Linked DNA regions of Homo sapiens: region 1 is linked to region 2. The links come from fine-mapping of genetic effects on gene expression. A gene starts in region 2. The other region holds a variant in brackets. All regions are shown on one strand. Distances are from middle to middle.

Region 1 (10,766 bases), 730 kb after region 2:
AGAGACTTCATGATCTCTGGGGCTAGGGAAAGTAAGGCTCCACTGCCCTGCAGGATGTCAGGATGACGCCACCCCCATGGCGCTCCCTCATCAAACTCCTAGGGAACAAAGTCCCTCCTCACTGAGCCCCACAGACGAGCCCCGGTCAGCCCAAGGGCCCAGCATGGTTGGAGGGTCCAGCTGCCCTCCCTGTCTGCACGTCCACACCCCCTTACCCTGGACAGCCCTGACGACCGTTGTCTGGTGTCCCAGAGCCATGGCCGCCAGGGCTCCCTGCGAAACAAGCTCAGGCCACAGGAGCCCCGTTCGGCCCCCGCGGGACCGCGCTCCCTCCCGCCGGCGACGGTCCACGCGCGGTCACCCCAAGGCCACTCTGGCCACGGCTGCAGACCTTGAGCGTGGGAAGGGGCAGCCAGCTCCTCGGGCCCATTCGTGATCCTCGGGCGTCCTCTGGCGGCCAGAGCGGGCGTGACCTCAGGAGAATCCCCGCCGAGGCCGAACTCGCCCCGATGGCCGTTTCGCTTTGTGGACGGTCGCATTTTCCCAGCGGGCACTGCGACCGACTGTGACTGTGGTTCCGGGTATGGTGGTTGCACGCCTGTGGTCCCAGCTAGTCGGGAGGCTGAGGCGGGAGAATCGCTTGAGCCCAGGAGGTCGGGGTTGCAGTGAGCTATGACAGCGCCACTACACTCCACCCTGGGCAACAGAGCGAGACCATTTCTCAAAAAGAATAAAATGACAACCGGAAATATACGACCGTGCTGTCGCGGCTGCAGGAAATGGCGGCGTGCCCAGGCGCACTCATGACGGCTGCGTGCTCGTCAAGGTGCACAGGCGCGCACGCGTAGCGTACACTGGTGAAAGTTGCGCATTTGGACAGGCGACACGTCCTGCGCCCGCTACCCAGACTCTGGGGAAGGCAAGGGGTGCCGCTCTGTTCTACTCCTTTTCCTTATCCATCTCTTCTGTCTTTCCAAAGAGATGGTGAAAGCTCCACACACAGGATAAACATGAGGAACTGAGGAACAGTTAAAAAGATGTCTATGCTAGAGCTTCAACCCAGGCCTCCGCCCCAGCCTGCTGTCCCCTGCCTGCCCTTCCACGTCTTATGCACTTCGTTCTGGGAGCCTCCATGCATGCCCTGGGGAGCAAGCCACACATTGCCCTCGCACGGCAGTGTTCCGTCAACTGGCACCATCCAGCATGTTCAGCTTGGTTTCTTTCCTCATCCTCATAAGCCACTGACTCTGGGTTGGAACCACCATCGCAGTTAGGTCATTCTCTACAATCGCTGGCCTACTATGCCCTGACCGTATCCCAGTGAGCACAATAGGGTCAGAATTCCAGGCCACTGTTGTCCCCCAACTTCCATTTTATCCCAAAGAGACCTTTCCCACTAGTTTCCCACAGCAGAGGCGAGACCGGCTGGAAAATGGAATGAAATTTATTGAAGAGAAACGTGTACCGAAATCACTGAAAAGAAGGGAACCACAACACAGAGAGAAACTGCAAACAGCCACTACAGGACACAGGTCCTAGGATCCCTCCTCCTGGGGTTCCTGGCAAGGCGCCTCGTCTACCCCCGTCCTGCTGCCGACCCCACTGCTACCTCCCTCCTTCCCGAGGGCCCCAGGGCCCGCCTCTTGCCAGGACGTGGACTCTGGCAGTGTCCACCGGCTTCAGGGAGCCCCCTCCCAAGCCCATCTGCTGGGGCAGGGCCCTGCCCTATAGTCATCACAGACAGTCACAGGACACCAGTAAACACAGCAGGGAACAGCCCACCAGGTCGAGGAAACAGTCACAAGTAACAACAGGGGTGGAATGCCAAAGCATAAAGCTCTCCTGGGAGCCTCAGGCAGGGCAGCCCCACTCCGTCCCGGGTCCGGCTCTTCCTCCCACAGTCATGGTTACCATCGTGGTCACAGGGTGAGCATTGGCCGCGCCCTGGTTCCTCCTTCCCGCCATCTCCTGGGTCTGTGCTGGGGGCCTCCGGGGAGGAGCAGCTCAGAGAAGAACACACACAGCTCCACGAGAACAAGCAGCCACTGGCCTAGATCTACACCAGGAAAGCAGAGGTGGTGTTTAAGATGCAGGACAGACAGCAGTGAGCAGAACCTGGGCTCACAGGAAGCTCACAGCACATGCCCCGGGCCTAGTGGCGGCCGCCCGGGTGGGTGCACAACACACAACTTTGCACAGGAACGACAGCTAGCAGTGGGTGGGCGTCTGCTGGGCGCGTGGGTCACTACGGGGCCTAAACAGGTGAGGGTGGGCTTCCCAGAACAGGGGGCAGCCTGCCCCGGGGACGGCAAATGGGGCAACCCTCTTGGGAGACCCAGGCAGCTGGCACCCTTGAGAGGACCTCTTTCCCCTGTCTCTCCCAACCCAGGACAAGGGGTGGGGGACAGACATCTTCAGGTGCCCCCACCCAGGTCGCAGCTGGCCACTCAGGGCTCCCTCCTGGCCAGCCCCCCAGAGACGGCAGGGTTTGGGGCTGGGGCTGGGTGCAGCACTGGGTGCAAAGCAGGGGTGCCTCCCCCAACCCCATTTGGTATCAACGTGGTCATCTGGGTCACCGGGAAGGGCTGATGGTGGTGGCCAGGGCCCTTTGGAGGGAGGTGGGGGGCCCCGATCCTGATGTGGGATGAGGGACCAGCCCTGGCCTGGCCTCCCCACTGCCTCCAGGATGCTGCGGCCTGAGAGGAGAGGAGGCCCTGGGGCCCTCTGAGCCTATTTGCCTGGGGAGGATTTGGGCTGACCAACCTTCCTGGCCCCATCCTCATTTTCCAACTCCTCCAGTATGAACATAAGACCCCCTTGGGTCGGGGGGCTCCTCAGCCTCCTGGCCTCCTGCCTGGACAAGACCCTCTGGCTCCTTCGAGGCCTGCAGGGGCATTTTCACCTTCCCTAATGGCAGGGGTGCTCCTGGCGGCCTCTTTGGTGGCAGGAGCAGTCTCAGCAGCATCTTCCACGCCAGGGTCAGCCTGGCTGGCGTCTTCCTGGGCTGAGGAGGCCTGAGCAGCATCTCCACAGGCAGGAGCTGCCTGGGCGGCAACTGGATCTTCACTTTCCACTGTGGCCACTGGCCAGGCCACAACATGCTGGCTCCTCACTGGGGAGGCCGCCCACGCCTCCATCTCCTGGATGAGCTGAAGCAGCCCCAGGAAGTAGGGCGGCCTCCTCTCCAGTGCATCCCCCTCAGGGTATTCTGGAGTGCTTCGCCAGGGCAGGCCTGAGGCTGCACCTACCGCAGTCACAGGTGGTTGGCCAGGGCCGGGCAGACGGCCCCCTTCTCCAGGGCCATCTGCAGCAGGCCTTCCAGGCATACCAGGAAGGCAAAGGGCCCCTGCGTTCAGGTCAGGAACTTCAGCCTGGAAGTCATTCGAGGGTCCCGGTTTCCAAACGCCTGCCCCAGCACCGCTGCCCAGCAGTCCAGCAGCGCCTGGCAGTCCAGTGCCGCCAAGTTGGGATCTTCCTCTAGGAGGCCGCTCACAACGTCCAGGGCTGGGCCACCCAAGCTCTCCAGCAGCCATCTCTTCCTCTCCCTTTCCGACGCATGGTACCACAGCTGCAGCATATCCTTGGCGTGCTCCATCCAGCTCTCAAAGGACTCTTCCTCGCAGCCTGGCTGCTCCCTCCCTGAAAAGGGTCTCAGTTCCTGGTAGGCCCTGTTTTCCAGCACAGCCTGCAGGGTGCAGCGCCGAGGCTGGACCCAGGCTCTTGTTACATTTGTCCCTCTTGCCTCACCCACAGCTCCTGCCTCACCCGCAGCTCCTGCCTCACCCACAGCTCCTGCCTCACCCACAGCTCCTGCCTCACCTGCAGGTCCTGTATCACCTGCGGCTCCCTCATCTGACTCTCTTGCCTCTTCTGCAACTCTCAACTCATCTCCAGCTCCTCCCTCACCTGCACCTTCTGCCTCACTTGCAGATCCTCCCTCACCTGTGGCTTCTGCCTCACCCTTACCCACAGCTCCTGTTTCACCTATGGCTCCTGCTGCACCTGCAGCTCCTCCATCACCTGCCTCTTCTTCCTCACCTGCAGCTCCTGCCTCACCTGCAGATCTTTCCTCATTCACACCTCCTGCCTCACCTACAGATCCTGCCTCACCTGCAGCTCCTGCCTCACCTGCACCTCTGGCCACTGCTTGCCCCTGGGGCTATGCAGGGAAACTGGGTATATCCTGAAACTCAGCATCAAGGGCCTGGGGCAGGGAGATCACTTTCCAGGGTCCCCCTTTGCCTGCTATTTGGCGGGGAATCAAGCTTTGGTTTAAACCCTCAGCGAATTCCACCAAGGCTGCCCTGGCCCCGAGCTCCTTTCTGAAGACCTTGATGAGCACTCGGTACCTGCCCAGGGGCGACAGGGCAGCCCGCACGGCCTCCTGGAACTCATGTTCCTCGCAGTCGTCAGGGATATCCAGGATGAGCAGAGAGCGCTCTGCGTTCACACCCATCCTCCTGCACCAGTCCCGAAGCATCGCCAGAGCCATCGCAGAGGACTTGAGGGAGGGAGCCTGATCAGACAGGAATGTGTGCTGACTGTTGCAGTCTCTGACGCAGCCTGTGAGTGCAAAGGGGAGAGAGGGACGTTGCTGCCAGTCAGCCCACCCCCACCGCACAGCCAGAGACCAGCCACTCCCAAATGCAGGGCCTGAAGCATCTCCCCTGCCCAGTGTCACAGCCCATGCTCCCCCACCCCTACTGCTGCAGCTCAGAGTCCTTCACTGCACCCCCCACCTCCACAGCAGGAAGCGCCTCTTTCACCTGGTGAACAGCCCCTGATCACAAAACTTACAGCTGGAGCCCCTCCAACCATCATGTGCAACCCTGCAGCTGGATGTGCCCACCTCCTCTTTTTCCCAGCACTTGACCAGGAGCCCTCTCCCTAATGCCATCCTCCCTGCAACCTGGCAACCCCCTCCCACGCCTCCCACATCAGCAGCCAGGAGTCCCCTTCCCCCACAGCCAGAGCCCCTCTCTCTCCCATCGTCCCCTTCTGTAGCCAGAGGTGCCCTGCAGCCAGGAGCTCACCCCACCCAGACTCCTGCAGCAAGGAGACCCTCCTCCCCTCTCCTCAGGCTCCAGACCAGGACCCGCTGTCGCACCTACTGCCTGGGGGGACAGCGATCTGGCTCCTGCCCAGTGTGCCCTCAGCCACTCTGGGGTCCCGCTGGTGCCTGCTCACTGTCTGCAGACACTGCAACCACCCACGGGGAAATGCCACCTTCAGGCTGTGGAGCCCACTCTGGAGGCCGCCTTGAGGCCCTGGAATGGGAAGGTGGAAGATCGCGCCCCAGCAGCCCATCTGGGACTGCACAGGGCAGGGATATCTCAGGCCAGCTGTACTAAGGGCACGTGGGCTTCCAACTTCTCCCAGAAGCCTCAGATAGATGAGGGAGAAAAATCTCAGAGTCTCTGTGGGAGGCAAATAGCTAAACAGGGGGAGGCATCCGTGTTGCCCTGGGATCGGGACCTGCGCGGTAAGGGCTTGATGTGCCTCCGGGGGCAACAGGCCCAACCATCAAAATGGCCTAGTGGAAGTGTTGAGAGAGAAAGGGGATTGGAAACTGGCAGAGAGGAAGCTTATGCTTAGGGGCAGCGTCTGGAAGCTGGGAGTTGGTGGACAGCCAGGTACTAGGACTCCAGACTAGGTCCCCCAAATCACTACATTCACAGGCCTACCTCCTCATTGCAGGAATCTCCACAACAGGAAGAGGCTAGCTGTTCCTGACTCAAGAGCCTCAT[C/G]ATAGTTCTTAGGCTACAAAGCCAGCCTTCACCACCTAGGAAGCCATTGCATTGGAAAGAGTGTGTACGGCCTTTGGAAGCAGGCAAAGCTGGCTTCACCTAGCAGCTGGGTGGCTTTGCACAAACCACTGAACATCTCTGTTTCTCATCTGTAAATGAGCAATAAGAACATTTTTCTTGCAGGGGAGTCATGGAGCTTTACCTTCTATTAGACACACGGTAAGCCTTCAGTAAATAACCACAAGGGCACAGGAATGAAAAAGGGTGGTGTGGCCAAGAATGGTGTGGGTATTGGAGGCTGGTTGTGGCAGCCAGCTCAGTGGTCCCAGGTCTGAGCTCTGAGAAAAAGCAGGATGTGAGTGGGAACATTGGAACCATTTTCCTGAGGAATGCAAGGATTGGCCAATGTGAAAATATGACTTTCTGTTTCTGCAGGCCTTGGTCAAGAGAGGCATTTGGGAAACTCAGCCAGTCTCTGCCATGTCTAGGACTGGCTACCCATCTGGCCAGCAGCTTTGGGAGTTTCCTGAGAGTGAACCCTTGATGCATCCTTGAGCACTGCTGCACAGGCACCACTGCCCTCACGTCACTTCCCCAGCCACCAATAGGAACAACAGGAAGAGTAAGAGAGTAAGGGTACGAGGGGCAGAAGCAGACCACATGTGACAAAGTGTAGGTGAGGGACTTGCCTGTGAACTCTTGTAGTAGATTTATATATATATACACACATATATACATATACATATACACACATATACACATATATATACACATATATATACACACATATATATACATATACATATACACACATATACACATATATATACACATATATATACACACATATATATACATATACATATACACACATATACACATATATATACACATATATATACACACACATATATATACGTATATAAAAATATATATATAAATCTCTCTCTATATATATATAGAGAGAGAGAGAGAGAGTAGAGAGAGAGAGGGAGAGAGGGAGGGAGAGAGAGAGAGAGAGATGGAGTCTTGCTCTGTCACCCAGGCTGGAGTGCAGTGGCGTGATTTCGGCTCACTGCAAGCTCCGCCTCCTGGGTTCAAGCGATTCTCCTGCCTCAGCCTCCCGAGTAGCTGGGACTACAGGTGCGTGCCACCACGCCTAGCTAATTTTTTGCATTTTTAGTAGAGACAGGTTTTCACCGTGTTAGTCAGGATGGTCTCGATCTCCTGACCTCGTGATTGGCCTGCCTTGACCTCCCAAAGTGTTGGGATTGATTTTTTAATGTCCCTGGTTCTCCATTTGTAATATGATTTCAAAACTCCTTCTATCACAAGTTAGAGTCAGTTTCCCTACCTCTGGAATCTAGGCTGGCCTAGAGACTTGCTTTGGAAAATGGAACATGAGAGAAGTGATGACATGCCAATTACTGTCGATCATGGGTCACATTTCCCTGTTACTTCACATGTTCTGGGTTTTTAAAAGTTGCATGTCAGGCATTGTGCTTCAAAGAACCATAGGGATTAGAGTACACTCTTTCCTTGGTTAGGTACTATAGTTTCCCTGAGGTATATAACTTCAATCCAATCAGAATTCGAGCTGTACCATGGCTTGCATACATCTTTAGTTAGTATTAGTATTAGATTTCAAACACCCTGAAGATAGGATTTGTGTTAAAGGCTGCTTCCTCCAGTTGCTAGAGTCAAGCAGAACTTTGGGGCCTAAATACAAGATTGATTCTCTCTCTCTCTCTCTCTCTCTCTGTCTCACCCCAGCCTGCCATATTACTTCTGTCACCACGCACTCAGAAAAAAAACTCATTAGGAGAATCCATTGATGGGGAGAACTAGGTATGCATTTGGGGCTCCTACAGATTCCAATGTGTCTACCCAGGCCACACAGTCATTAACTGTCTTTATCCCAGCAATTATTGCACCTATGGCCGGCACAATCCTCTGCCTTGTAAGACCATTCTTACCGGAGAGGACAATGGCCATTGATATGTGTTTGTCTCTCTCTGAAATTTAGTTACTTTAGACTTCAGGCAGGGCACGGTGGCTCATGCCTGTAATGCCAGCACTTTGGGAGGCCAAGGCGGCCGGATCACTTGAGTCCAGGAGTTTGAGACCAGCCTGGGCAGCATGGCAAAAACCCGTCACTACAAAAACCCAAAAATTAGCCAAGCATGGTGGCGTGCACCTGTAGTCCCACTTCTCAGGAGGCTGAGGTGGGAAGATCCTCTGAGCCAGGGAGACGGAGGTTGCAGTGAGCTGAGACTGTACCACTTCACTACAGCTGAGGTGACAGAGTGAGACACTGTCTCAATATATATGAGATTTTTGACCATCTGATTTTTTTATAGTTGTTACAATGAGATTAATGCTCTGTCATGACCTACATCCTAACCAGAACAAGTCTACTCCAAACCCACAAAGAAATGGGTCTGGAGTTCTTCTTCTTGAGACATTTTAAGTGATCTCTTTTAATCCTAGAAACTAGGTGGTAGGGGTATTCGGTGCACTTGAAATTTTGACTTGAGAGGGAAGGTGACCCTAGTGGATTTATAATTTCCCTAAGTTCCATTTCTGTAGAGCTAGGGATGTTCATATTGGTGGCTTACTTTTGCTCCCTGGCTTTACAAATAACAAGTGGACACAATTAAGTGCCAGGTTTGTCAATGGGAAAGTTGTGTAGACCTGGTTCATTGGACATTTTTCTGAGATGTATATTGGGTTATCACCAAGTGAGGTGATAACCTCATCCCAAATCTGCTATTAATAACAAAAATTGCATCGTAATGTAGAATGCTAGAACAATGGGATATTGCACAACTAGGCTCGAGGAGTTAATTTGGATTCAGTGGACAAGGTGCATATGCAATTGAGTGTTCAGTAACAAAATTTATCCTAAAACACAGAGGAATTTTGTATCCATATTTATTACCATAATTGTCCACAGTATGTATCAGTCTCTCCTGGAGATACCACATGGTGATAGACCAGCAAGACTGGACATATTTATGCTCACAGAAACATTTTCTGTTCTATCTGCAGTGCTATCACAGCTTACATGGTGGCACCTGGGGAAAGGTAACAAAAGCAGCTGACAGAAATAAGGGACCCAGTGGATAGTGATATAACAGAAGTGAGTAGGTGGTAAGAACTTGGTATAGTGGTATGGCTCCACGGTTTGCACATGGAAAATAATACATATAAGCTCCTAAGAACTGGAACTTCACTACACCCAGTCCTGAGGAGGAAATACTCCATGGCTCTCTCCCTCTGTGGGAAGTGGGGGGACTGTGGCTCCTTTGATACTCATGTTGCACCCACTGAGACCTGTGGTAAAAGTGTAGCTCATCCCAGGCTGAGCAAGGAAGAGCCATTCCTCCAAGCCCAAAGCAGTAGAAAGGATATCAGTCATCATTCCCCACTGGCTGCTGTCATCAGCATATGCACTGAGCTTGCCCAGAGGGCAGAAGACCTGCAACCCTTTCCTCCCCTTTCTTGATAGTGTCCTTAGATGCACGAACGTTTTTGTTTTTGTTTTTGTTTTTGTTTTGTATGAAGTCCAATTTATCTATTCTTTCCTTTGGTTGCTTGTGGTGTCATATCTAAGAAACCATTGCCTAATCCAAGTTCATGAAGATCAACATCTATGTTTTCTTCTAAGAGGGCTGTAGTTTGAGCCCTTCGATTTAGGTGTTTAGTTCATTTTGAGTTTATATAGGATGTGAGGTGGGGGTCTGAATTAACTGTTTTACAAGTGGAAATACAGTTGTCTTAGCACCATTTGTTGACAAGATTTTTTTTTCCCATAGAATGGTTTTGGTGTCCTTGTCAAAAGTTCACTTGACAATATATATACGGTTTTATTTATAGACTCTAAATTCTATTTCATTGATGCCAGTATCATAGTCTTTTTTTTTTTTTTTCGAGACAGGGTTTCACTCTGTTGCCCAGGCTGGAGTACAGGGATACAGTTACAGCTCACTGCAGCCTTGACCTTTTGGGCTCAACCTATCCTCCTGCCTCAGCCTCCTGAGTGGCTAGGAACACAGGCCCAAGTCACTAGGCCCAGATATTTTTCCTTTTTTTTGGTAGAAATGGTGTCTCTCTATGTTTCCTAGGCTGGTATCAAACTCCTGGCCTCAAGGAATCTTCCTGTCTTGGCCTCCCAAAGTTCTGGGATTACAAGCATGAGCCACCGCACCCAGCTCCAAAAAATATTTAGCCTCTCTGTACCATATAAAGACCAGAAGGAAAAATAATATAAATACAAATATAAATTTATGCATAGTAATTAATATTTCAGTATTTTTACTTAGAAATAATCTAGCCATTTAATGAATATCTATTACTTAATTTAGCATAACATAAGGTTGTAAGTTATCCCCTAAAAATTGGAAACTGTTTTTAACCATATTATAAATATTGTTGAAATAAAAGTTATCATCAGAATAATGACTCGATTAAACTCAAATTTATATTCTGTGAAATCTTAAATATCTAACAGATACAGTGTTAACTTTTTGACTAGGAAGCCTATATAAGCTTAGTAAGAACATACCCAGGTAATATAAATATGTATGTTTGTATTATGCTTAATGCTGATAACTCAGAGACATAGCTGTTTTTATTAAAGCAGATATCTATTTACAACTATATCTACATCTATTTAGAGACGGAGTTTCTCTCTGTCATCCAGGCTGGGTTCCAGCAATCCTCCCACCTCAGCCTTCTGAGCAGCTAGGACTACAGGTGCATAACACCATGTCCAGCTACTTTTTAAATTTTTGGTAGAAACAGGGTATCGCTATGTTGCTAAGGCTGGTCTCGAACTCCTGGCCTCAAGTAACCTTCCTGTTTTGGCCTCTCAAAGTGCTAGGATTACATGCATGACCCACTGGGTCTGGCCTTAAGCTAACTCTTCTTTATCAAAGATTTACTAAATGATGTGATGTTGAGTTTTTAAAGCATTTGGGTTAGTTTCTAAATTCTTGAGAGTTTTAGTTTAATTTA
Region 2 (10,670 bases):
CCTGGTACAGCACCTCGGCCACATCCCCAAGGCGCCGTGTCTCACACACGCCCTGCCGCACCTGCCCGCAGGCCACCAGCTCCTGGGCGCGGCTGCTCACCAGCAGCAGCTGGTTGGCATTGTCAGTGAGCTGGGCCTGTGGGCACTCGGCTGGGTCACGGAAGGGCACGCAGTCAGGGCTGTCGATTACAGGGCCAGTGACAGCCACGGCCTCGAGCTGCAGCTCGGGGCTGAGCTGGAAGAGGCGGTTCACTGCGCCGACATAGAGTGTGCCTCGGCCAGGTGCCAGTGCCAAGTGGTTGAGAGTGGTATTAGGTGCGGAGAAGCGATGGGCCCCTGTCAAGGGCAGTGGCGGTGGGGACAGCAGCAGCAGGAGGAGGCAGAGGCCGAAGGGAGGCCAGCGAGCCATCACGGGGGCCTGTGAGAGGGCACAGGTCAGGGCAGTGGGAGCGCAAGGCAGATAGAGGACCAGAGGAAGGTGGAAGGTGGGGTGGACAGAGGCCAGGGTGCTCAGGGCCAGGGAGGGAGGGAGGCAGAGAGATGGAGAATGAGAGAGAGTGAGCGGAGACAAGGAGACAGAGGGGGCACAGAGAGAGGGGGACATAAGGAGGGACAAAGACAGTGTCCAAGAGCTGGAGCAAGAGGCAGGGAGGGGTGCATGCACGCACGCACAAGCACACAAGGACAGAATTCTTTCATCTCCTACTTTATATGCATGTAGATTGTTGAAGGGGGGCAGGTCCTGGAAAGCCGCAAGAGCGCTAACAGAGGGACTGTGAGTCACAGAGGGGGCAGGGATGGAGAGAGGGCAGGGGAGGGAGGGAGGCCGCGGGAGCTGGAAGGCTGGCGGAAGCTGTGTCACAGCGCGCCCCTGCGCCCACCACCCAGACAAGAGAGATCTAAGTCAGGTGAGAGGAGTGAGGCCACCGTGTGCCCCAAGGGACCAGACAGGGAGAGAAAACCTGCCTTGGGCAGCCAGGGCCGGCTGCAAGGAGGAACCCTCCGCAGCTGGGGGAAAGAGCCAGGCAGCCGCGGGCTGAGCAAGGAGCAAGTCAGCGAAGAGGCAGGGGTGAGCTCCATGCTGGCGCCCAGCTCCAGGGCGAGGAAGCACTGGGGCAAGGCAGCGGGGGTGCTGGGAGAAGCCAGGGGTGTCAAGAGACAACACAGGCTTCAGGGGTGCGGGGAGGCCTGCTCCTGCCCCATGGGCCCCAGCAGTTTGGGTCTCTCAGGGCCTGGCACAGGGGGCCTCAGTGTAGGAGTGTCCCAGGAGAAGAGCAGACCAGGAGAGCTGGCTGGGGGAGGGGTCAGGGAAGGGGCAGGGAGGGGTGCCAGACTGGAGATGGTTCCTGGGTGTGCCTGGTGGGACCCCGGGGTGAGCCCCCGAGGGTGAGAGGTGGGAGCAGCCCCTTCTCTGGCCCCTCCTGCCCTCCACAGAGAGATGCTGCCCTGGGTGTGTGGTCACATGCCGACCAGGAGTGGGGCCGCTGCGACTCAGGGCAGAGCAGCGCCTGGAGGAAGGCCCAGGAGCCGCTTATCTCAGGAACACAGGCAGGAAGAGCACGGACACTTCCTGCGGACCCCGGGCTATCTGGGGCAGTGTCTGCCATGAGGGAGGCTGCAGCCTGTATGTCCTGGGCCTGGCCACAGCCATCCTGCCCTACCCTGCCCCTCCCAGGAACATTTCTGGGGACACCGGGCCTGGGCACTTACCATGAAGTGGTGCAGCAGAGGGGTCTCCTGGGCGGCGTGGCACATACGCTCAGTTCAGCTGCCCCAGGGCAGTGGCGATGGGCATGAGATGGCTGCGGGGGGGCATTGTCCTGAGTGGGAGGGAGACAGTCGAGGCTCAGCCCCATTCGAGCTGGCCTGGGGAAGGAGGGGCGGCGGTGGGGGTGGCGCCCAGGGCCTAGCGACCGGGCTCCCTCACAGCTGGCAGCTTTGTCAATAGTGGCCAGGCCAAGGCAGCCCTGCCTCCACCACAACAATGTTCCCTCTGTCCAGAGGCCAGGCCAGGGCCCCACTCGCTAGTGCTGTCACCCCCACTGGGCTGTTCTGGACAGGGGGCTCCTTGCCACTTCCCACCCTCAGGGAGCCACCCCCGGGATCCGGGGACAAAGGGCCGGGGTTTCCTCCAGCCAGCCCTCCCCCTCTGGCCCTGCAACCCCTGTGTCACTAAGCATGCCCCTCCCTGGCTCCCCGGGTCCCTGTGAAGGGCACGGGGTGGACCTTGGAGCCCCTGCAAATGCCGGCTGGTAGCCTTGGGGCCTGGGTGAAGTGCCAGTCCTGGCCCTCAATGCCTGCCTTTGTCCAAAAGATCTTCCTCCACACCCCCAGCCCAGCCCTGCCCCTGGGGACTGGTGAAGTGGTGCCAGGTACAGCATGGTGGCAGCGAGCAGGACCACGGGAGGAGGCTGCTTGAGATGGGCTGAGGCAGAGGGTCCACAGGCCGGGGCTGTCCACCCCACCCTCTGAAGCACCGTCCTGCTGGCCTAGATGCCATCCATGCAGGGGATGGGGAAGGGAGGGGCACCTAGCAGCTAGACCCCCTGTCACCCTCACAGGCCACCCTGGCCAGTGGCACAGGAGCAGGTGCACTGGGGATGGGGTCTCTGCCTCCCCCACAGCACGGCAGCAGTAGGCTCCAGGGCAAGGTGGCAGTGGGCTGCTGTCACCTGGCTGGGCCAGTTGGGTGGCTGTGGGGGTGGGGAGCCAGGCGGGCAGCCTCTCTACCCTGTACCCTGCCCGAGGCTGGCGTTGGCTTTCCCATTTCGGGGAAGAAACATGGTTCCCCACCTCCTAACCCCAGGGCTACCACTTGGGGGACACCGTGCTCCCAGACACCTAGTGCCGTCGTCAGGCTGGGCCGACACCCGAGCGCTCTTGCCTGACCCCAGCCAGTTGGCCCTGAGACCCTGATGCCTTGCCCTGAGGCTGGTAGCCCCTGCACCCCAAGCCCAAGCCCAAGCCTGCCCCAGCTCTTGCCTACCTGGTGGGCCACCGGCGAGGGCCAAGTAGCAGCTGGCGGTGCCAGGAGCACGTCTCACAGAGCCCCAGCCTCCCTCCCCACAATGCAATCGTGCCCAGTCCGACTCATCCCAACAAGCCCGGCCAGGCAGCCCAGCCTCTCTCCGCCCGCCCCTTTGCCCAATGGCACAGGGCAGGATGTTGCTGCCCTCTGCTGGCCGCAGCGGGCATGATGGAGTACTGACCGTGGGCACCTGGCAGGTGAGAGACGGCAGCGCCCTCCTATTGGGTGGGCATTCCATAACCTGGCACGAAGCACCTACTGGATGCCAGGCTTGGGCTTGGCACTGGCACCATCCAGAAACAAACACAGGTTGGGAAACTGAGGCACAGGAGGTTAGGAAACTTGAATAAAGTCACACAGCTAGTATGTGGCAAGGCTGAGTCAATCACAGGGCCCCTTCACTTAACCGTCAGGCTACATGACCTTGAACCATGAACCTTGGCAGGCGTTGGGCAGGAGATGGAGCTGAGGCCTACCCCAGGCCAGGCCTGGACGTGACATGCCCACGTGGCGTTGAGGAAAAACCAGTGTTTCCCACCGACTGGAACACAAGGTTGGTCAAGGGCCGTCTCCCAGGGTGTGGCGGAGGTCAGCAAATCAGGTGGGGTCTTTGTGGCCAGGCTTGAGAACTTGAACTTGTCTCGCCATGGGCAACTGCAAGCTGGTGGCACTGGGGCAGAGAATGTGGGGAGGCCTGGTCCAGTGGTGGTCATGGGCATGGAGAGAGGCGGGCGCGTTCTAGAGGCGCTCTGGGGAGGCAGCATTCTGAAGACTGTGCGTTGGACCCAGGGCAGGAGGCGAAGGCAGGAGAATCCAGGCGACCCTGGGGCTTTTCTGCTGGGGCACTGTTCCCCCTGTGGCAGGGCCATCCACAGAGGGGCTGGCGGAAGTGGGAGGACGGTAAGACTGAGGGGCCCATGAGGGAGGAGGAAATGGTGATGGGGCTGGGGAGGCCTGGGGGTGAGAAGCTTGGCTCAGGTGGCTGGAGCCCTGGGGGCGGCCAGGGTATAGGGCCAGGTGTTGGCCCTGGAGCTCAAAGGCCCAGCAGACTCGGGGTATGGGTGCTTCCCTGAGCAGCTGTGTCATTCTTTCCAACCTGCATGGAGAGAAATGGGGCACAGAGGTGGGTAACTTGCCCAGGGCCATGACCTGACGTCGTTTCTTCAGAGTGCATTCCACAGAGATGGGATTTGAACCTGGGCATTCTGGCACGGGCCACGCTCTGGACCACTGGGCCCCAGATCCACAGCTTCTCACCTGCAGCCGCTGAGGATGTGGAGGCAGACCAGGCAGGCCCGTGGGAAGGACCACCAAAAAGCGAGTGAGCAGCCGGCGAGGGGTCTCTCCCCAACAGGAAGGCCAGGCAGCCTTGAAGGAGCCAGGGAGGGATTTAGAAGCTCCAGGAGGGGAGGCTTGGGGGAGCCAGCTGGCCTCTCTCCCTCTCCCTGTCCTTCCCCCCATGCCTACCCCAACACACACACACATGTCCTTGCTGGCCCCGGATGAGACAGACGCCTGCAATCTGGCATGGGGAATGGGTTTCTCCTTCCTTTCCACAGAAGAAAATAAATCAGGCTGGGCGTCGTGGCTCCCGCCTGTAATCCCAGCACTTTGGGAGCCTAAGGCAGCAGGATCACTTGGGCCCAGGAGTTCTAGACCAGCATGGGCAACATAGTGAGACCCCCATCTCTATAAAAAAATTTAAAAATTAGCCAGGCATGGTGGTGCGAGCCTGTAGTCCCAGCTACTTGGGAGGCTGAAGTGGGAGGATCGCCTGAGCCTGGGAGTTGGTGCCTGCAGTGAGCCGTGATGGTGCCATTGCACTCTAGCCTGGGTGACAGTGCAAGACTCTGTCTTTAAAAAAAAAAGAAAAGAAAGAAAGAAAAAAGAAAATAAATCCATCCACAGGCAGCACCATTTTCATAAATATGTGTGTATATGGCCTGCATATGCACCTTCTACGCTTTCTGAGCAGATAAGAGGCGTGGCTATGGCAGCCCCTGGTCTGAAGCTGGTGTAACCAGAAAGGATCTAGGCTGGTTTGGGGAACCGGAACATCTTATGTCAGGGGAGTCGTGCTGGATTTATCCTGCAATGGCCGGGTCCCCTCACCAAGGGATGGGAAGGCAGCGTCAACTGATCTGGTGTCGTCTCCTTGCTGTGTGCCAGGCTTCTCAATGCTGGAAGGGGACTCGTTGGGTCAGTGGGACGTGGGCTTCACGTTTGCTGGGCTGAAGACGTAGCTCTCCATGCTGGCATCCCAGCGGACACCCCCACTGCCACTGCTGCACCACGTCTTCACGTACACCAGAGAGCAGACTTGAGAGTTTCTGCGCATACAGTGGGTGTGAAATGGTGCCCTGCTGGGTTTTGAATCGGCATTCCTTGACCACCGGCCATATTGCAGCACTTTTCATTTCTTCTGTCAAATGCCCGTGCATGTCTTGGCTTACACTTTGCAGGTGTTCTGTATTTTCCACACCAATCCCTGGGGTGTATGTCTTCGGCCTACCTGTTACTTGTCTTCTCAGTTTGCTGATGTATCATGTGATAAACAGAAAGTCTTAATTTTAATATCATAGCATTTATCAATCTGATTTCTTTTTTTGAGACGGGGTCTCGCTCTGTCGTGCAGGCTGGGGTGCATTGGCGCAATCATGGCTCACTGAAGCCTCCTGGGCTCAAGTGATCCTCCCACCTTAGCCTCCCAAACACCTGGGACTACAGGCAGGCGCCACAGTGCCTGGCTAATTTTGTAATTTTTTTGTAGAGACAGGGTCTCGCTATGTTGCCCAGGCTGGTCTCAAACTCCTGGACTCAAGCGGCCCTCCCGCCTTGGCTTCCCAAAGTGCTGGCCCGTGAGCCTGTGAGCCACTGCGCCTGGCTACCTTCTTTTGAATTCCCATTCAGACTGTGTGTTGCTGGTACATAGAAAAACAATGGATTTCTATGTATCAAGTAACCTTGTAAACTCTCATATTAAGTCTAATAATTATGTTTGGGTTCTCTTTGTGGATTCTTTTTGATTTTCTGCGTACACAATCCTATCATCTGCAAGTAATGACCATTTTGTTTCTTCTATTCCAGTCTTTTTAGCTTTGATTTCTTTTTTTGAGGCAGAGTCTGGCTCTGTCACCCAGGCTGGAGTATAGTGGCACAATCTTGGCTCACTGCAACCTCCGCCTCCCTGGTTCAAGCAGTTCTCCTGCCTCAGCCTCCCAAGAAGCTGGGACTACAGGCACCCACCACCACGCCTGACTAATTTTTGTATCTTTACCAGACACAGGGTTTCACCATGTTGGCCAGGCTGATCTGGAACTCCTGATCCACCTGCCTTGGCCTCCCAAAGTGCTAGGATTACAGGCGTGAGCCACTGTGCCCGGCTGATTTCGTTTCCTTGCTTTACTTCCCTGGACTTGCTTTCTCTTGCTTTTACTTCCTTTGAATGAAAGCATAGGAGGCGCTGGGCATGGTGGCTCACGCCTGTAATCCCAGCACTTTGGGAGGCCGAGGTGGGTGGATCACCTGAGGTCAGGAGTTCGAGACCAGCCTGACCAACATGGAGAAACTCTGTCTCTACTAAAAATACAAAAAAATTAGCCGAGCATGGTGGCCCATGCTTGTAATCCCAGCTACTTGGGAGGCTGAGGCAGGAGACTCGCTTGAACCCAGGAGGCCGAGGTTGCGGTGAGCCAAGATCGAGCCATTGCACTCCAGCCTGGGCAACAAAAGCGAAACTCTGTCTCAAAAAAAAAAAAAAAAAAAAAAAAAAAGCATAGGAGGCATTCTCAGTGTTCCATTATTAAGTATGATGTTTGCAGGGAGCATTCGGTAGATATGTTTATCAGATTTAGAAAGCTCCCTCCCATTCCTAGTGTGCTATATGTTGAATTTTTATAAAATGCTTTTTCTGAATGCATTAATATGATCACAGGGTTTTCCTCCTCTAATCTGTTAATGTGGCAAATTACATTAATTCATTTTTAAATGTTAAACCACTCTTGTATTTTCTGGACTAAACTCAACTTTGCGTGATGTATTTTTTTCATATACAATTCTGGATTGGGTGGTTTTTTTTTTTTTTTTTAGCCTCGTATTATTATCCTCGTCTGGTTTTGGTATCAAGACATCGTAAAGTGAGTTGAGGCAGTATTTCCTTTTTCAGCTGTTCACTGGAACAGTTAGTCTAAGATGGAGATGATCAGTTACTTCCATGTTTGCTGGAGATCATCTGTAAAACCATCTAGGCCTTCCTTGTTTTTTATTTTCTGTTTTTTGTTTTGTTTCTTTTCTTTTCTCTTCTTTGTTTTTTTTGTTTTGTTTTGTTTTGTTTTGTTGTTGTTTTGAGACAGAGTCTCACTCTGTTGCCCAGGCTGGAGTGCAGTGGTACAGTCTTGGCTTACTGCAACCTCTGCCTCCTGGGTGCAAGCGATTCTCCTGCCTCAGCCTCCCGAGTAGCTGGGACTGCAGGCATGCACCACCACGTCCAGCTAAGTTTTGTATTTTTAGTAGAGACGGTGTTTCGCCATGTTGGCCAGTCTGGTCTTGAACTCCTGACCTCAGGTGATCTGCCTGCCTCGGCCTCACAAAGTGCTGGGATTACAGGCATGAGCCACCGCATCTGGCCTGGCCTTCCTTGTTTTTGTAGCTTCCTGCCTGTCCCCCTATAGATTTTAAACAATGAATCCAACTTCTGTAATAATTATGGGACCATTTAGGTTTTCTGTTTCTTCTTGAGTAATTTTTTTATTGTGGGAAAAAATACATAACACAAAATTTGCCATCTTTTTTTTTTTTTTTTTTGAGACAGGTCTTGCTCTGTTGCCCAGGCTGGGGTGCAGTGGCATAATCATTGTAACCTCAAACTCCTGGTCTCAAGCAATTCTCCTGCCTCAGCCTCCTGGGTAGCTGGGACTATAGGCATTCACCACCATGCCCAGCTAATTTTTAATTTAATTTTTTTTTTTGAGACAGATCTCACTTTGTCACCCAGGCTGGAGTACAGTGGCGTGATCTCAGCTCACTGCAACCTCTGCCTCCCGGGTTCAAGCAATTTTTGTGCTTCAGCCTCAAATTTTTAATGTTTTTGGTAGAGATGGGATCTTGTTACTTTGCCCAGGCTGGTCTCCCATTCCCAGACTCAATCAATCCTCCTACCTTGGCTTCCCAAAGCACTGGGATTACAGGTGTGAGCCACCATGCCCAGCCTCCAACTTTATTCTTTTGCATGTGGATATCAAGTTTCCCCTATACCATTTGTTGAAAAGACTGCCCTTTTCCCAATTTGTAGCCTTGATACCCTTGTCAAAAATCATCTGACCATATACTTGAGAGTTTCTTTCTGGGCTCTGGATTATATTCTGTCTCTGTCTTTATGCCAGGACCACACTGTAATATGTTTTATTTTGTAAATCAGGAAGTGTGAGTCCTCGAACTTTGTTCTCCTTTTTCAGAATTGTTTTGGTTATTTGGAGCCCCTTGAGATTCTATCTGAATTTAGGATGAATCATTCTATTTTGAGTCAATTTTTGATAAACAATATTTTTCTAGGAACATGCTTTTTTTTTTTTTTTTTTAGACAGAATCTAGCTCTGTCGCCCGGGCTGGAGTGCAGTGGCATGATCTTGGCTCACTGCAACCTTTGCCTCCTGGGTTCAAGCAATCCTCCTGCCTCAGCCTCTCGAGTAGCTGGGATTACAGGTGCCCGCTACCACGCCCAGCTGATTTTTGTATTTTTAGCAGAGACGGAGTTTCACTGTGTTGGCCAGGCTGGTCTTGAACTCCTGACCTCAGGTGATCCACCTGCGTCGGTCTCCCAAAGTGCTGGGATTACAAGCGTGAGCCACCGCGCCTGGCTGGAACATGCCCATTTTGTTTAAGTTTTCAAGTTTATTAGCATAAAGTGTTTTGGTTTTATTTTATCATTGATTTATTATTAATAAATGTCTTGGGTCAAAACCAGATGACGTTGCTTAATGTTCATTTATTGTTAACCTACAAAAATTGCAGTTTCATCTTGTTCAATCTAATACACACGGAAGAGCATATGCTGCTTAGATGAATCATCCCCACTGACAGCCATCATGGACCCTTCTTTTTCCCTTCGCAGTTAGTCCTAGCCTTTCCTTGGTTTTCTTTATACTTGTCCCAAATATGAATTAGCCTTAAACAATAAATTATTTACTTTTGCAACAAATTTTTTGGTTTTATTTTTTTAAATGTGTTAACTAGAATCACCATGCTGTACATCAGATCTCTGGAACGTCTCCATCCTGCATAACTGAAACTTGGTACCCTTTGACCAGCATTTTCCCATTTCCCCTACCCCAGTCCTGGCGGCCACTGTTCTGCTCTGTTTCCATGAGGCTGACATTTTTACTTTCCACGTGAGCAGCGTCATGCAGTATTTGCCTTTCTGTGCCCGGCTTACTTCACTTAATGTAATGTCCTCCAGGTTCCTCCATGTTGCAAATGGCAGGATTGCCTTCTTTTTAAAGGCTGAGTAGTGATCCATTGTGTATCTGTACCACATTTTCTTTATCCATTCATCTGTTGGTGGGCATTTCGTTTGATTCCATATCTTGGCGATTGTGAGTAGTGCTTCAATGGACATGCGAGTGTGGATATTGCCTCGACATACCGATTTCATTTCCTTTAGATACATACCCAGAAATGGGATTGCTGGATTGTATGGTCATTCTCACTTTAAATATTTTGAGGAACCACCATGCATACCATTTTCCATACTGTTCCAAAATGTTCCCTTTTCTCCACACCCTCGCCAAAGTTTGTTTTCTTTTGTCTTTTTGAAAACGATCATTCTAATTTGAGTGAGGTGGTGTCTCATTGTGGTTTTGAGTTGCATTTCCCTGATGATTGGTGATGTCGAGCATTTTTTTCTTTTTTTAAGATGGAGTTTTGTTCTTTCGCCCAGGCTGGAGTGAAGTGGCGCGATCTTGGCTTACTGCAACCTCTGCCCCCCGGATTCAAGTGATTCTCCTGCCTCAGCCTCTGGAGTAGCTGGGATTACAGGCGTATGCCACCACACCTGGCTAAGTTTTGTATTTTTAGTAGAGACAGGGTTTCACCATGTTGGCCAGGCAGGTCCTGAACTCTTGACCTCAGGTGATCCACTCACCTCGGCTTCCCAAAGTGCTAGGATTACAGGCGTGAGCACTGCACCCGGCTGATGTTGAGCATTTTTTTTTAATAGACCTATTGGCCGTTTGTATGTCTTCTTTTGAGAAATGCCTGTTCAGGTCCTTGCCCATTTAAATTGGGTTATTTATTTTTTCAATTTTCAATTTTTAATTTTTAGGAGTACATAGTAGGTGTAACTGGGTTATTTTAACTGGGTTAGAAAATACATTTGCTTGCTATTGAGTTGTATGAGTTCCTTGTGTGTTCTGTGTATTAACCTTGTATCAGATGGATGGTTTACAACTATGTTCTTCCATTCCATAGGCTGTCTCCTTCACTCTGTTGATTGCTTCCTCTGCTGTGCAGAAGCTTTTTAGTTTGATGCAAACTCATTTGTCTGTTTTTGTTTTGTTGCCTGTGCTTTTGGTGTCATATTGAAAAACTTATTGCCCAGACCAGTGCCAAGCAGCTTTTCACGTAAGTTTCTTCTAGTAGTTTTCTA

Alleles and levels. Positions count from the first base shown, and alleles are read on the strand shown. Sizes are in standard deviations (SD) of each study's normalised expression.
For the expression in cerebellum of the gene that starts at base 3,042 in region 2, allele C in region 1 goes with a higher level than allele G (large effect, 0.94 SD a copy in GTEx).

What was found.
Region 1: its variant is fine-mapped to the expression of PLXNB3 in cerebellum (GTEx, PIP 0.93).

Annotation. Positions count from the first base shown.
Region 1 is chrX:153,022,511-153,033,276 of GRCh38, reverse strand. It overlaps the pseudogene LOC112268308. Among named protein-coding and RNA genes, the nearest start is that of PNMA3, 29 kb to the left of the region's middle. The variant C/G (reference allele first, on the strand shown) is at 5,748.
Region 2 is chrX:153,756,621-153,767,290 of GRCh38, reverse strand. PLXNB3 (plexin B3) reads right to left here and starts at 3,042. Exons shown (of 36, transcript NM_005393.3): 1 at 2,987-3,042; 2 at 1,711-1,820; 3 at 1-418. The coding sequence starts at 1,755. It overlaps PLXNB3-AS1 (PLXNB3 antisense RNA 1), which reads left to right and starts at 820. Exons shown (of 3, transcript NR_199696.1): 1 at 820-908; 2 at 3,442-3,581.